Linked DNA regions of Homo sapiens: region 2 is linked to region 1. Evidence: fine-mapped QTL for protein levels in blood plasma. A gene starts in region 1. The other region holds a variant in brackets. All regions are shown on one strand. Distances are between the middles of the regions. Region 1 holds the start of EPHB4 (EPH receptor B4). Region 2 holds the start of MUC3A (mucin 3A, cell surface associated).

Evidence for each region. PIP is the chance, under the fine-mapping model, that this variant and not a neighbour inherited with it causes the effect. The UK Biobank Pharma Proteomics Project read protein levels with antibody pairs (Olink). The fine-mapping took linkage between variants from a reference panel, not from the people measured, so its PIPs are less certain.
Region 2: its variant is fine-mapped to the plasma level of the EPHB4 protein (UK Biobank, PIP above 0.99).

What each region holds. Positions count from the first base shown.
Region 1 is chr7:100,825,544-100,830,903 of GRCh38, forward strand. It overlaps EPHB4 (EPH receptor B4), which reads right to left and starts at 1,980. Exons shown (of 17, transcript NM_004444.5): 1 at 1,436-1,980. The coding sequence starts at 1,487. It also overlaps a transcript of SLC12A9 not described here. RefSeq lists enhancers at 1,984-2,779, 3,576-4,371.
Region 2 is chr7:100,946,443-100,951,802 of GRCh38, forward strand. It overlaps MUC3A (mucin 3A, cell surface associated), which reads left to right and starts at 3,092. Exons shown (of 12, transcript NM_005960.2): 1 at 3,092-3,243. The coding sequence starts at 3,183. LOC105375431 (a long non-coding RNA gene) reads right to left here. Exons shown (of 3, transcript XR_007060457.1): 2 at 125-309. RefSeq lists enhancers at 2,631-3,609, 3,610-4,588, 4,639-5,184. The variant T/G (reference allele first, on the strand shown) is at 2,384.

The sequences.
Region 1 (5,360 bases):
CCTCCACTCTCTGTCCACCTCCGTTTCTCTTTCTGACAGTCACTATCTCTCCTTCGCTTTCGGCCTCCACTTCTCGCTGTTCCTCGCGGCACAGGGCCTTGGATAAACTACTTAACCTTAACTAAGCCCCAGCCTCCTCATCTGAAAAATGGGGGCAATAATAGCACCACCCTTAGCGTTGCTGGATGGGTGAAATTAATATTTGTAAGGCGCTCAGCACAGGCCTGGTGCTTGGAAACACTCAGGTAATAGGTGTCACAATCACCATTTCCTCTTTGCGTCTTTCCTTCTCACCACACCTCGTCCTCGTGGTTTTTCCACCCCTTTGGCCTTCCTCTTCCCCTCGTTCATGGTTTTTGTTCCCCCTTCTCCGTTCTCTGAGCTGGGCAAGCCTCCCCTCACTCCCAACCCCACACCTAGCCTTTGATCCCCAGCCCAGGGCAGTCCTGCCCAGCCAGGGGGAGAGGGTTTTTCTAACGCCGCTGAATCCTTCCCTTTGGGAGTCCCTCATAGCCTACCGCCCCATAACCACTTTCATACCAGACAGAGAAAGGGGGGTGTTGGCAGCTCACTGAAAGGACATTAGGGACACAGGAGAGTTTCTAGGGCTCTTGGCTCCCCCTTTAGGGGACCAGGAGGGACAGCGATCCATGGCCAAAGAAATGCTTGGAGAGACCAGGAGGTGGGAGATAGACTGGGTTAGTTAGGGCGATGTGGGGGCTGTGTAGGTCAGTTTCTACCTGGGGGCTGTGTAGGTCAGTTTCTACCCGCTCCTAGGTCTCAAGGGAAGCCCGGGACTCACCTGGGGCCGGGGTCTAGACCGCATTTAAAGGGATGGGGTGCAGCCTGTAGAAACCAAGGAGCCACCCTATACCAGGGGCAGGAGCAGTGGGCGGGAGAGCGGTTTGGGGGTTTGCTGTGTGAATGCAAAGGAGGCCATCCTGTTGCAGGAGTGTGGAACTGGAGGATCAAGGTGTGATCGCTAAGGAATTGGCGCTGGGGGTCGTTTTAGGGCCTAGCACGAAAAGTTGTGCCTTGTCTGCTGTTGCTTCTCCAGAAACCTTCCCTCATGTACGGCGGGAGGTGGGACTGGGACAGAAACTTTGCAGATAGTTTTGAATAGTGGGGTAGGGAGGAAAGGAAAGGCAGCCAGGGGCGTATGTAATCAGCAGTGAGAGTTCGGGGAGCCCGGGCAGGGGAATGTCCCGGGTCGTAGCCAGACTCCATCTCTTTCCCAAACAAAAGAAAACTCCACTACCCGTCGGGCGCCTCTTCCCCGCCCCCCTCCCGTTCCAGCACTATCGGTCCGAAGTGTTTGGGACTGCAGTGCCCGGGTAGGGGTAGTCAGAGGCCGGCCCCTCCACTCCGAGGCCCAGATGTTGGGGGGGAGGTCCCAGGAGTGACGGGGTGCGCCCCCCCCCGCAAGGAAACTCACCTTCCAAAGCTGCGGCCAACGAAGCCCAGCAGAGCAGCACCCGGAGCTCCATGGCGCCGCCTCACTCGGGTAGGATCCGAACTGAGTTTGGGGGGCCCTCGCCCCCCCAGGTCTGACTCTCCCTGGGCGGGTGGACGCCGATACTCCGCGCGGGACTCCTCGTCGGGGCCCTCAGCGCGGGCCCATGCGAGCGTGCGGGGCACCGGGCGGCGGCGCCAAGTGTGGCCCCGCGTCTGTGCCGCGCGCGCGGGCGGCGGGCCCGGAGCGTGCTGGCAGTGGCCGCGCCGGGCGGGCGCGCAGCAAGACGTGGCTGGAGTTGGGGTCCCTCCGGGGCCTCGGGGTCCCGCCCCGGGTGGCGGGGGCTGAGCCGGCCGCTCGCGGTCTCCCCCCCTCCCTGGAGTGGCTCTGCTCGCGCCGCCGGGCCGAGTGCTCTCCTCGCGGGCGGGGATGGTGGGAGCCCGAGCGGGGACGGAGCGGGAGGGAGGGAGACTGCGGCGCGGAGCCGGGCGGGCCGGGCCGGGCAGGGGCTGAGCTGCGCTGGAACTGGGCCGGGCGGCGCCGGGCCCGGGAGGGAGGGGCGCGCGGGGGGCGGGGGCAGCTCTCCCAACGCGGGGGCTCCGCGAGTGAGCCCCGGGCGCGCTGATTGGAGCTCACGCTACTGAATAATTCATGAGGGAAGCGGAGAGGGGCACCGAGTGGAGCAGGTCGGGAAGTTGAGAGAAAGTTTGGAGAAGGGGGAGGGGCGGCGGGTGAGGAACCCCGGGACCGCCCAGATGTGCGCCGTGGCGGTGCGCGCTGTCCAGGACCGAGCATGTCGGGGCTGGGGCCCAGGGACCCCCGGGACAGGCCCGAACCCGGCTGGCACCAGGGAGCAGAGAAAACACACACCCAGCAGCAACACGGAGGGCCGCCCAGGCGTGCACGTAAATGTTCACCGCGCACACAAAGCCCGCTCTGACCTTGCTGCGGACTCTAGATGCCGCTCTTGGATGCGCCCACCACCCTCTAGTGGGCGCAGGGACTGCGTTTTGGGGGAAAAGGAAGGAAAAGGGAGTAGAAGCTTTGGAGAATTGACGGCCGCCCAGGGGGCCTCAAGGAGCAATCCCAGTTTGGATAGCCTTGCAGCGAACGTTCACACAGTCACCCCATAAACATTCAGTGTTGGGGACCTACTGTGCGCGCAACCAAGCCCTGAAAAATGTCCAGAGGAGGCGCGCACTAAGCTGCGCTAGGGAGTAGAGAAAAATCGAGGAAACAACGGTAAAGAAAAGGTGGGTGTGGCGGGCGCGGTGGCTCACGCCTGTAGTCCCAGCATTTTGGGAGGCAGAGGCAGGCGGATCATTTGAGGTCAGGAGTTCAAGACCAGCCTGGCCAACATGATGAAACCCCGTCTCTACTAAAAATACAAAAATTAGCTGGGCATGGTGGCGCGCGCCTGTAATCCTAGCTACTCGGGAGGCTGAGGCAGGAGAATTGCTTGAACCGGGACCTAGGAGGCGGAGGTTGCAGTGAGCTGGGAGCTGAGATCGCGCCACTGCACTCCAGCCTGGGCTACAGAGTGAGACGAAATCTCAAAAAAAAAAAAAAAAAAAAAAAAGGTGGGTGTGTCCGAGAGGGTGAGGGGTCCGGCTAGATCTCCAAATCGCCCTTCTCACTCTCACTCTCGTGTTTTGGGGGGGCTTCCCCGCCGCCCGCAGCCATGACCCCTGAGGCTGGGGCTGCGGCTGCGGCTGCTGTCTTTCCTGAGCTGTTTCCTGTCTGGCTCCTGGGGGCCCTCGGGATGGCTGGGAGGGGCCCTTCCTCTCACTGCCAACTCCCCTCACCCTCCCATCAGTTAGCGGGGAGGGTCCAGCACAGCCGTGCTCCTCCCACCAACCCCCTTCTACTTCAGGGAACTTAACAGTATGGGTTACTGGATAGATGGATTGGAGGGGGTGCTGCTCCAGGAGTCAGCCCCTCCAAGGGGCAGAAGGAAAGGACTTAGACTCCCACAGTAATTAGCGGGGACAGATTTTTTTTTTTTTTTTGAGACAGAGTCTCCCTCTATTTCCCAGGCTGGAGTGCAGTGGCGTGATCTGGGCTCACTGCAACCTCCGCCTCCCAGGTTCAAGCGATTCTCCTGCCTCAGCCTCCCGAGTAGCTGGGATTACAGGCACAGGGCACCAACCCCGGCTAGTTTTCGTATTTTTAGTAGAGACAGGGTTTCGCCATGTTGGCCAGGCTGGTCTCGAACTCCTGACCTAAAGTGATCCACCCACCTTGGCCTCCCAAAGTGCTGGGATTACAGACGTTAGCCACCGCGCCCAGCCGGAGGACAGAATCTTGAGGAGCCCAGCAAGAGAGACGTTGGAGCCCAGCAAGAGAGACGTTGGAGTCCAGGATGCTTGGGGGGCTGCCAAGCGCCCTTACGTCCCAGAAAGGACAGCCGGGCCTGTGATAACCTCTTGTCCCGGCTTACTTATCTTCCTGCTGCAAGAGGTGTTCCCCACACCCCTGCCCTTCCTTGCTGTTCTGCCTGGGTCCTGCGCCCGGGTTGGGGGGGGTGGGCCGGTCACCGAGGGCAGGAAACAGCCGGCTTCACTGGAGCCAGGCAGACCAGGCTGGAGCTGGGAATTCCCTCCTCCCTCCCCGATGCAGGCCCAGTCTCCCCTTCTCTTATTCAGCTTCTCCCTCGGGGTTCTCTGCAACCCTCTCCCAAACCCCTGCCCTGCCTTTTGCCACTCTCACTCTGTACCCAGATCCTGTAGCCTCTAAAAGTTATGTCTTCTGGCTGGGGACAGTAGCTCAGGTCTGTAATCTCAGCATTTTGGGAGGCCGAGGCGGGTGGATCACTTGAGCCCAAGAGTTCGAGACCAGCCTAGCCAACATGGTGAAACCCCTCTCTACTAAAAATACAAAAATCAGCTGGGCATCATGGCACACACCTGTAGTCCCAGCTACTAGGGAGGCTGAGGCACGAGAATCGCTTGAACCCGGGAGGCAGAAGTTGCAGTGAGCAGAGATTGCACCACTGCACTCCAGCCTGGGCAACAGAGCCACACTCTGTCTCCAAAAAATATATAAAGTAAATAAATAAGTAAATAAATAAATAGGCTGGGCGCAGTGGCTCACACCTGTAATCCCAGCACTTTGGGAGGCCGAGGCAGGCGGATCACCTGAGGTCAGGAGTTCGAGACCAGCCTGGCCAACATAGTGAAACCCCTTCTCTACTGAAAATACAAAACTTAGCCAGGTGTGGTGGTGCAGGCCTGCAGTCCCAGCTACTCGGGAGGCTGAGACAGGAGAATTGCTTGAACCCTGGGAGGCAGAGGTTGCAGTGAGCTGAAATCGTGCCACTGCACTCCAGCCTGGGCAACAGAGTGAAACTCTGTCTCAAAACATAAATTAATTAAACAATAGAAAACACTCATCTTAGTGGGGCACAGTGACTCATACCTGTAATGCCAGCACTTTTGGAGGCTGAGATGAGAGGATCGTTTCAGTCCAGGAGTTTGAGGGCAGCCTGAACAACATAGCGAGACCCTGTCTACAAAAAAAGAAAGAAAGAAAGAGAGAAAACATTCTATTCCATGTCAGGTCATCAGCCCACACCCCACACCAGGCAGTAATCTATTTTCTACCATCTAGTGTATGCCAGTCAAAGAATGAAAAAATGAAATCTTTACTGAGCATCTACTACGTGCCGAGTGATCACATTGCTAGTTTTCAAGATTTGTAAAACATGGTTCCTGGCCTCAAAGAGAATCTGGTAAAAATTAATATAGTTTTATGTCATCTGGTGAATTACAACCTGGTAGAAAAAAAATCCCATGATTTCCCCTTTACGTGGAGATGGCATCTGAGATTTTCACTTCAATTCTCAGGAACCACCCTTGGTCTATCCTGTGTGTGTGAAGTCATGTCCTCCACCCTTAGACCACCCAGA
Region 2 (5,360 bases), 120 kb after region 1:
GTTGGGGGTCTGGTGGCTGGAGCAGAAGGGGGTGTGGGTATTAGAGAGGTGATGGACAGAAGGGGTGGTGGATGGGGGTAGATCTGGGATCCATCTCCCCAGGAGCCTGGTGATCTTTACTTACAACAGGAATCCATTTTCCATTTACGTCTGTGTCTCCAGAACAGTGATGGGAATTTTATGGTGTTTGATACTTAAAAAAAAAAAAAAAAAAGACTGGAAACCCCCGAAACCTCCAGCTTGGTTTGCAGCGTCTTGGCTGGCTGTGGTGCTTGACCATGTGGCTCAGCAGTTTCCACAGAGACTGCTCTGAAAAACAACAACAAAACTTTTTGCAAACGAGTATCTTCATGCTGGGCAACTTGATCAAATGTATTAAGAAATTGAAGTGGAAGACCCCAAGAGTAGCCCTGCTCCCTGTTGGCCCCTCCCCTGAGTTACCCCCAGTGGTGTCATTGTCGGGCTCTGAGCTCCACCTCATTTGGACTCTTTAGCTTTTCATTTCTTTGCTCACTTCCTCAACTTGACCACACACACTGAGGCCAGGGCTATACAATGTGTCCCCTGGATTTTGGTGCAGCCATTTGCACAACCGATGCGCAGGCAGTGTCACTTGGTGGGTATGCACAGCGCCTCTTATTTAGGGTCCCTTCAGTGACTCTCGATAAGGACAAGGTCCCCCAGGAGACATGAGAGGCACAGCCCCTCACGAAGATCTCCCAGCGGGCCTGGCCTCAGAGAGTTCGCTGGCTGCCTTTGCAATCCTGTCCCTTGGGCCTGCTGGGAAGAGGAAGAGCTGCAGTTTCTCTCCGCAAAGCTTCTTCCCTTAGGGATGGTCAGACCTATTTAGATCTATTTTTCTTTTTATCTTTTTTTTTTTTTTGTAGAGATGGGTCTCGCTATATTGCCCAGGGTGGTCTTGAGCTCCTAGCCTCAAGTGATTATCCCGCCTTGATCTCCCAAAGTGTTGGGATTACAGGTGTGAGCTACTGTGCCTGGTCTGACCTAATTTTATTTTATAATTTTTTTTTGAGACGGAGTCTCACTCTGTCACCTAGGCCAGAGTGCAGTGGCGGGATCTTGGCTTACTACAACCCTCACCCCCTGGGTTCAAGCAATTCTCCTGCCTCAGCCTCCTGAGTAGCTGGGATTACAGGAGTGCACTATCATGCCCGGCTAATCTTTGTATTTTTAGTAGAGACGGGGTTTCGCCATGTTGGTCAGGCTTGTCTCAAACTCCTGACATCAAGTGATCCGCCCACCTCGGCCTCCCAAAGTGCTGGGATGACAGATGTGAGCCACTGTGCCTGGCCCTGACCTAATTTTATATTCATAATTTTTTTTTTTTGAGACAGGTTTTTGCTTTGTCACCTAGGCTGGAGTGCAGTGGCTCGATCATGACTCTTTGGAGCCTTGACCTCCTGGGCTCAGGTGATCCTCCCATCTTGGCCTACCAAGTAGCTGAGACCACAGGGGCACACCACTATGCCTGGCTAATTTTTTTTGTGTTTTTTTTTTTTTTTTGGTAGAGATGGGGTCTTGGCATGTTGCCCAGGCTGGCCTGGAACATTTGGGCTCAAGAGATCCTCCTGCCCCGGCCTCCCAAAGTGCTGGAATTACAGGCGTAAGCCACTGAATCTGGCCTGAGCACAGTGTTCTGTAGGGTGACTATTCCATCTTCTTTCTGGGTTGAAACAATCGTTTGGGCTGTTTCCAATTTCCATCAAAATTGCCATAATCGAGAGTCAATAAACATCCTCATGAATGCTGCCTTGAAGGGTTTCTTGGACACAGAGATGGAGGGTGAAATTGCTGGGTCCTAAGGCACTCATTTAAAATTTTAATAGATGCCACCAAATTACCCCTTTAAAGCAACCCAACCCACCTACACACCCACCAGCTGGATAAGAACATTTGTTTTACTTTATCTTGTTTTTGAAATGAAGTGTCGCTCTGTTGCCCAGGCTGGAGTGCAGAGGCACGATCTCAGCTCATTGCAACCTCTGCCTCTGGGGTTCAAGCAATTCTCCTGCCTCAGCCTCCCAAGTAGGTGGGATTACAGGTGCCCACCCCACGCCAGGCTAATTTTTGTATTTTTAGTAGAGATGGGGTTTCACTATGTTGGCCAGTCTAGTCTCGAACCCCTGACCTCAAGTGATCCTCAAATTACTCTTTTAAAACAACCCAACCCACCTACACATCCACCAGCTGGGTAAGAACGTTTATTCTTCACACCTTTGCCCAAACTGGATAGGTCAAACAATGTGCTGGGTCCAAACCAGTTTTTTTTTTTTTTTTTTTTTTTTGAGATGGAGTCTCGCTCTGTTGCTCAGGCTGGAGTGTAGTGGTGTGCTCTTGGCTCACTGCACCCTCCACCTTCTGG[T/G]TTCAAGCGATTTTTCTGCCTCAGCCTATTAGTAGAGATGGGGTTTTGCCATTTTGCCCAGGCTGGTCTCGAACTCGTGACCTCAAGTGATCCACACCCCTCAGCCTTGCAAAGTGCTGGGAATACAGGCGTGAGCCACCGCGCCGGGCCCAGACTAGTATTTTTGAGTGTTTCCTTTGGTCATCCATGTTTCCTTTTCTGGGACCTAGCCCCAACTCTTCAGATAATAAAATGACTTCAGATGGAATTCTGTGTTAATTACTCCCACGGTTTTTTCTGGCCTATGGGGTCCTGCGGGGGACAGGATGGAGCAGGGGCAGACTGAGGGACAGAAGGGGCTTGAAGGAGAGCGAGGTGCCACTGTCTCCCCAGCAGGAGGAATTGAAACTCAGGAGAGGCTGCAGGAGTAGGACCAGACTCCAGAGTCCAAGCCCTCGGTCAAGGGTACCCTCCACGGGTGTCGGGGAGGAAGGGCAGCTTCCAGGCAGTTCCATGTGGGCCAGGCAGGCTGTGGGGCTGAGCCAATAGCAGCTCTTCCTGCCTGACACTTCCTGGACTTGTCCTATCTTTTTCCCCCGTGTCCCGCTTCCCACAGCGCTGACGTCTGTCTGTCCGGGTGCAGGGAGAAGGGAGGAAGAGGGGAGAGGTGGGGCGGTGCAAAGGTGAGGCTGTGCTCAGCCCTGACGCTCAGCAAAACCGATAACCAGCACTTTCATTACGTGCACGCCCCAGGGCCACGTCCCTGCCGCTGTCTTGGTCCTGAAGCCTGTTCTGCCCCAGCCCCCTGCCCGCTGGGCCCATGCAGCTGTTGGGGCTCCTCGGCCTCCTCTGGATGCTCAAGGCCTCCCCGTGGGCCACAGGTAAGGGGGAGAGGCGGAAGGGGGTTGGAGAAAAGCTCCTGATGTGATGTTCCAGGAAAGGGGAGGGAAAAGTGGCTGTAAGGCCTGGGGAGGGGGGATAAGAAGGCACCGCTTGGGGCTCTGGGTGCAGGGAGAACCGAGGCACGGCCTGACTGGGGGAGGGGGCGGTGAGGAGAGGTTTCTTCCAGAGCTCCAGGTGCAGGGAAAACCGAGGTTGGGAAAGAGTGAGGGAGCTGGGTCTCTGCCACTCTCCACCAAGCACTGAGCAGGTTGCAGCGGCTGAGCCCCAATCTGTATCTGCAGCTGGAGGGTAGAGGGTGGGATTTACGTCTTCCCAGAGCAGTGCCCTTCCTGTCTTGACTCCTTCTGTCACCTGCCTCACGCCCCCAGCTTGAGTGTCCCCTTCACACTGGCCTCTCCCTCCCTGACAGCCCTCTAACTTCTACCCCTGGTCTCGGTCCTCTGGTTTCAGCCTCTCTGCCTTTTGTCCCCCGGCGGCTCCTCCCCAGCTCTGCCGTCACTCTCTTACCCCGGCCAGGGCCCATGTGTCTGGGTACAGCTGTTGGTACCAGGGCCGGGGCAGGGAGCTCCTGATGTCCACTTCGCTTCCAAGGGTGCGTCTGAGACTACCCGTCGTGGGGTCCCAGGCTTCTCTCTTCTGCCCTGCAGGAACACCTCGCAATTCCTCTATACTTCTCTTTTCTCTGTACTTCAGTGTCTGCTTCTGATCCCCGATCCCAGGCCACCCAGCCTACAGGCCCATGAGTCCCCTTCTCAGTCACCTCCAGGGCCACATCCTGGAGCCAAGGGCTGTAGCCTGGGGATTCTCATAATCCCTGACCCCACTTCCCTGGCACCCACGAGCTAGGTTGAGACGTGACACCCCAGCTCTCAGCCACAAGATGGGCTGTGCCCGAGGTGAGGGGTAGCAGGTCGGGTACCTCCCACTTCCCATCTGCTGTGGCTGCCTGTCTTCCTTGTCCCTGACACCCCCGACAGCCGGATCTCTGATCCTAACTCTGACAAATTGTGAAATGGGTTGAAATCCACATGCTGGGGTTCATGCTTGTAAACTAATGAATCCCACGGCCAAAAGGGAATAGTATAGAAAAATATGTCTATTTGTGTGATGAACACTCACTGCTAAGCCTTAAGGTCTCCAGAACTCATCACGCCTGACTGCTGAGGTAGCTCCTTCTGGAAGTTTCCTTTTCTATGCTGTCTCTCTGCCTCTTCACCTAGTCCTCACTCCATGCCCTTTGAAGTCATTAGTGTGTGAGCTTAGCCTGTTTCTCTTTGGTGTTCTCTGGGCAGTTTTTTGTTTTTGTTTTTGTTTTTGTTTTTGATGGAGTCTTGCTCTGTCACCCAGGCTGGAGTGCAGTGGCACCATCTCAGCTCACTGCAGCCTCTGCTTCCTGGGTTCAAGCGATTCTCCTGCCTCAGCTACAGGTACACGCCACTACGCCTGGCTAATTTTTGTATTTTGTTTTAGTAGAGAAAGGGTTTCACCATGTTGGTCAGACTGGTCTCGAACTCCTGACCTCAAGTGATCTCCTGCCTTGGCCTTTCAAAGTGCTGGGATTACAGGCATGAGCCACCGTGCCTGGCCCTCTTTGTTCAGCTTTCCCTGTCTCCTGGTTTTTGTGATGCGCCCCCTGCCAGGACATGGCTGGGTTCTCTCTTTTTCTCTTTGAAAGCGGAGTCAGCCCAGACAGCAGCAGGGTGCCGGGAGAAGCAGTGGTGGGAGCAGAAGGTTAATGGGGGGATGGGAGCACTCCAGGCAGTAGCAGGGGGAGGAGAGGAAGGGGCAGAGGGAGGAGGAGCCTGGGTGTGACCAGAGGAGGGAAGGGAGGGGAGGGAGGCTCTGCCCAGCTCGGCTATATCAGGACAGGAGGACCTGCCATGACAAGGCCAAGGCCCGGTGAGGAATGAGGGCTCCCATGCCCCACTGCTCCCCTAGGAGCAGACAGGCAGTCGTCTCCAGCACCACAAAGCACCCAGCTCCAAGCTGCCTCTGATGCAGGAGTCAGCTGTAATATGCCCTGCCCTCTGTGATGCTGCCTGGAAAATGGGTGAGTGAGTAGCTTACATGAGTGATGTAACAAAATGACCCACGG